Linked DNA regions of Homo sapiens: region 1 is linked to region 2. Evidence: fine-mapped expression QTL. Tissue or cell type: whole blood. Region 2 holds a variant in brackets; the other region holds the start of a gene. All regions are shown on one strand. Distances are from middle to middle.

The links. PIP is the estimated chance that this variant, and not a neighbour inherited with it, causes the effect.
Region 1: TENT5A starts here. The variant in region 2 is fine-mapped to the expression of TENT5A in whole blood (INTERVAL, PIP above 0.99).

Annotation. Positions count from the first base shown.
Region 1 is chr6:81,751,420-81,754,183 of GRCh38, forward strand. TENT5A (terminal nucleotidyltransferase 5A) reads right to left here and starts at 1,262. Exons shown (of 3, transcript NM_017633.3): 1 at 1,012-1,262; 2 at 171-759. The coding sequence starts at 722. RefSeq lists enhancers at 923-1,423, 2,284-2,333 and a silencer at 1,334-1,463.
Region 2 is chr6:81,786,270-81,789,033 of GRCh38, forward strand. No RefSeq gene overlaps it. Among named protein-coding and RNA genes, the nearest start is that of LINC01526, 27 kb to the right of the region's middle. The variant T/C (reference allele first, on the strand shown) is at 1,494.

The DNA.
Region 1 (2,764 bases), 35 kb before region 2:
CCACGCACGTCAGTTTACTGGTTTAAAAAATCAAAAATCAAAGAAATAACGCGCGCCCAAACTCGTGATGGCCACAGATTCATGGCATTTAACCGATGCCCCTCTGCCCGCTCCCCGTCACACCCGGCCCAGACTGGGTCAGGACCCAAGTGCATCTCGGGTGGTGTTACCTTGAGCGTGAGTGGTGTGATCTTCTCTTTGTTCACCCCCTCGGGTAAGAAGTCCAACAGGCAGTCCAGCACGACGTCCTTCACAGTCTGAAACTCCCCTTCCCCGCGCAGGTCGGCGCAGAAGATGAGGTCCAGGTCCTTGTAGCCCAGGCCGCTGTCCTGGTGCAGGACATGGCTGGCTGCCGAGCCGTTGAGGCGCACGTCGCGGACGCCAATGCGCTTCTCGGCCAGGCGCCGCCGCACCACCTTCACGATCAGGCTCGGCTGCAGCTCGAGCGTGGGGAAGTTGCCGCGCCCGTGAATCGGAATGGTCTCGCTCAGGATGCCGTCCAGCCGCTGCACTTGCTCCCAGTTCAGCACATTGCAGTGCGCCGTAGGGCTTTCGCAATAGTCCAAGCAATGCCCACCGAAGCTGCCGCCACCGCCGAAGTCGCCGCCGCCGAAGTCGCCGCCGCCGAAGTCGCCGCCGCCGAAGTCGCCGCCTAGGGGGATGTAGGGGCTGCAGGCCAGCTCGTCCTCAGACATGGCGAAGTACCCTTCACCCTCCGCCATGTAGTGCCCGCCGAGCGCCACTTGGCCCTGGTCAGTCCTAAAAAGAAAGGGAAAGGAGCGCGGTGAGGACGCGCGGCGGCGGAGAGCACGCGCGGCGGCGGAGAGCAGAGGCCCGCCAGGAAAAGAGCGCCCCCTCCCCCGATAGTTCCCTGACCCCGGGCCTCCTCGGAGACTCCCTCCCCCGGCCCTTACAGTCCCCAGCCGCGCACCGCGCCCCGCAGAGCAGCCCCGCACCAAAAGTATCTCTGATGCATCTGGAAAGCGCAAGCGAGAGTCCCGTCTGTGTCACCTGGAGGCGGCCGCCCCTTCTAGGAGCGCAGCGAGCGAGAGCGAAACCGAGAGGCGGCAACACTTCCAGGAGCTGCGAGCGCGCTCAGACAGCAAATAGCGACTTCGTCTTTCCCAGACCCCTGCCGCCTGCGCTCACCACTCCCTCCCCGCGACCCCTCCTGCGCCGCTGCCACCCCAGCTGCGGTGGTCCCGAACTGGCGGCTCTTGCTGCCACACACGCTCGTGTCTCTGGAGCTTTAGCAGTTGTGCGGGGAAAATGTCTTCAGTACTTTTTTTATACCGGGCTTCTCTGCGCTTCCGGGGCCCAGAGCGGCACGTTCGCCACACCCTCCTCATCTGCATAGGGCGCCGCCCCCTCTGCCCTCCCCCGCCCGCAGGGCACGCAGCTGACTAGCCCAGCAGTTAGTGCGGGACGACTGCCGGTGAGCGTGAGGTCCTGGGCTGTATGTGCGGATACTGTGTGCGCCCGTAGATGCGTGTATTTATACATACATTTAATTTATGTACGCCCCCTCCCACAAATCTCTTTTCATTTTCCCCAGGAGGAGACACTTTAAATGCCCCAGGAATCATAAGTGGTCATCAAAACCAGATCACGACTAAAATCCTGCAACTGCAGAAACTTCCCAAAATTCTCGCGGACTCAGCCCGTCTTTAGATCATCACGGTTGGGCTCCGGAGGTTCCTCACGACCGCTCTTTTAAACCTCGGTTTTTAGGTAGACCATTTACTCCATTGATAAACCCGATCCAAGTGTGGACTCATGAGTCCACTCTTGCACGCAAATCAGTCACGGCGCGTGAGTGGGAAGGGCTTGTTGATAACTGGGTTTCGATTCTCGAAACCTCGGGAAGCGCGCCGGGGAGCTCTGGGCGAGCCCGAGAAGGCGCGGGGGCGGCACCACGGGCCTCGGGCGTGCGCGGCTCCTGCGCACGAGTGGCTCCAAGGGGCCAGTACTTCGCGGGGGTCAGGGCGCGTCACGGAGCAGACGCGGGCGAGCAGCCAATGGCCGAGGACTGGGCGGGCCGAGTGGGCGCAGAGAGCGCGCCCGGGGAGTGCGTGCTGCCCCGGAGTCCAGGGAAAGGGCCGCTAGGTGTCCGGTGCCTTTGCTGCGAGTTCTCTGACAAAATTGGAGGCGGCGAAGCGCGTTCCTCGCGGCCCCCTAAAGTTTGGCCATTTTAAGTGCATCATAGTGTCAGTGGAATACGATTTGGTTTTCCACGAGACGTAAAAGTAGGAGTTTCAAGAATAAAATGAATTCTCTCCTCCAGCTTCGGTGACTTCGGCAGAGCTAATTCTACGCACGCTCACTCGCGCCACCACCACTCTTTGCTAGAAAGCTGTGGCCGTCTCTTCGGCAGCTCGCTGCCTCCATCAACTAACCCGGAGCAGCTTTCCCAGCGCCTAGACGCTGCCGGGGGCTGAGGTGGGGCAGAGGGGAGAATGCCAGGGTCACAGAATACTCCCCAAACCCTGCTCAGCCCTGCCCGCCCAGACTGGGAGGAAAAACAGCCCGCACCTCCTAACTGGGGGAGCCCCGGCCTAGTCACTCAAGCTGCGCGGCTCGGGGGTGAGGGGTAGGGTGCGGGGGTGTCACCCGTGGAGCATCCAGCTGCGTGACAACGCCGCCCCCTCCCGGTGCCCTGCCGAGCTGCGTCCCAAAATGGAGAAATCCGACTGTCTCTGTGGCAGAGGCCATCCCCTCAGCGCTGCGCCTAAGCACTGAGGTGCGCCTGGGGACTCTAGGACAA
Region 2 (2,764 bases):
CAGGAACTATATATGCCATGCATTTATTAGCATTTCATGGTTTACCAAGCACATTCACAGATACATTGTGTTTCGTCTGACTTTCACATCAATCCTATGAGTTAGGCTATTATTATTCACAACTCACAGATGAACAAAGCCCAGCCTTGAGAAATTTGGTGAGTTGCCTGAGGTCATTCCACTTGTGGTGTCAGTGTTGGAGCTCAGACCCAGGTTCTGAATCTGAATCAAGTTATCTTTCCACTGAACCATTTCAGGGAATAATAAGGACATCTCCTTGGGCCCACCACCTTGAGTAGCCTTCTGACAGAAGGGACTTCTGTTAAGGTGTTCCTAGCTACCATAAAGAGTTGAATGTTAGACCAGAGCTGCCTTCTCTGCGGGACATTTTATAATCTGTCTGTCTGATGGCTCACATGGGCAAGTCTGCAATACACAACAGGACAATGGGTACTACGATAGAGTTTATGTATATAGAAGCTTGGAATGTCTATGACCCTCTGTGTAGCAAAATGGCAACTTGAAGAATTGTTTTAATAGGATTTATTAAAATTTTGACATTTATGCTTTCTGGGGAAGATGAGTTATGTAGACAGCAAAATGGATTTACTTTTTAATTGGCTTTTCTAAAATAATTCGTCTCATTTTGCATTTAGTCTTCAGCTGTTGCTCCGATGCCTAAAATTTTATGTTTTTACATTTTCTGAGGCAGATATTATTAAAATATTCACTGCTACTTGATATTTCAGTGCTTTAGTTTCAGTTTCATTTTTAGGAAATTGATAATATTTTCAAATTATATACCAGAGTGATTGTGTCAATGCAATTTCCTTTTTGTTTTTACTGTATTTACTTTATTCAAGATGCTTTTTGCTTTCTTTACTCAGACACACATCCTTGTGTGATTTTTTGTGTGTGCGCTTTCTAATATTTTTTTCTTGCCCAGTGGCTATTACTATTTTGCCTTGTTCAAAATTCATTCATGTCGGTTTCAAAAGAACTTCAAATATTTGTTTACATTTTACTGTATGAGGCAAGTCCTGTCATTTATCTAACAATGACCAACATTGCTCCTTTAAATGTCTCCCCAAAACAGGTCCTCCCCAGTTCTTCATTTTACCTCAAAGAATCAGAATGACAAGGAAAACTTTAGCAGGAAAAGAAAATGGTAGTCCTATAACTTTTTTAAAAACAGCAATAAATTGTATTATTGGCAGCATAAGAAAAAGTCTGTGGCTGATGACGTTAACAAAGTTGACATAGTGCCATTTGAATTGACTCTACTCCTAGACAAGCATAAGTAGTATTTACTCAGTCCCAGAAACTGTGATTCTCAGGCTGAATCTGAAAATAAAAACCCAACAGGTCTGTCCATTTTTATTTTCTTCAATCTCAGGCTGATATTTAAAACCATTGAAAGACAAAATTGGCTGTTTGATAGTAGCAGCATAGTATTATAGCTCACACACTTCTACTCAGAGAAATATGATGCC[T/C]TAAGAACAAAACTTTGACACAGAGCTTAGCTATTTAAGGTTCATAATACCCTGAATTCGTAGAGTATATTTTGGTTTACAAATATTGCTTTGAAACTGGCAGCAACCTTAAGAGGTTTGCAGAGAGCATAAACTGTTAATCCCAGTTTAGAGCAGAGAGGAGTGGAGGTCAGTCAGAAGGTCTAAATGACTCACAAAAGGGCAAACAACTAATTAGGGGAAGATCCAGGTTTCCTAATACCTAGCCCATATTATTTGTACTATTTCGGTTGAGCATTTTTAAATTTCTATGCTGTTAGAACATTTTTAGACCAATAAGAAGGACAATTTCATATGGTCTCTCAAATGTGCTTCTTGCAATGAATATTGTCATTGTTGGTAGTTTTTATGTGGGAGTATGGAGTGTGCAGTAGGAGGAAACAGGTTTGAATTTTATATAATTACTAACTAGTTTGAAAATATTTCATGACAATGTGACTTTATTTAATATTATTTTCCTTCTACATAGCAGGAGTTCAATTAATTAATTGTGATACTTATTAAAACTGTGAAGTAAATATTTCCACAGAAACTTCCAAAACTTATAAACATAATAGGGTTTAAAAATTGGGGATGAGGAAGATACATCAGTAACCCATATTATCAAATAAAATATTTAAATACTCACTTTGCACTCTAATCTTCCTGAAGACAGTTTATTTCCTTTTATATCTGAGATTCTATATTCTACTGGACTACTGGACTCTACCTCTGATTTATTTTAAAAGAAATTTTAATAGTAATCAGAATGGAAAGTCAATAACTCAAACTTATCAGAATTGAGAAAGGTTCTAGCTTAGGAAACTTGTCCCTATTCACTCAGGAAATAGAGAGCACTTAATCTAAAGGAAGATGCTTGCTCCCATTCAGGAGGGAGAAATGTTGTTCTCTGTTGCTTGAGTCTCTCCCCAGCCCAGCGCCTATCTCCTAACCCAATTGCCATCTCCAACTTCAGAGAGCAGCTTTAGTAAAACACTCTGGCTCAATATGTCATGCTCCCAGACCAGTGGGATTCACACACTCTCTTAAGGCCAGAAAGACATCTTTATTTGTGAACAACATGTTCCAGGAAGCTCCATACACCTACCATCAATAAAGCACCACACAGGACCTTGGGAGCTGGTGACTCAATGGTGTTTGTTCTGTTTTTTTTTTTTTTCATTGCTGTTTATGGAGGACCATTGTACAAGGAAAATTAAAGCTTAAAAAAGACAGTTCTGCCAATGTTACAT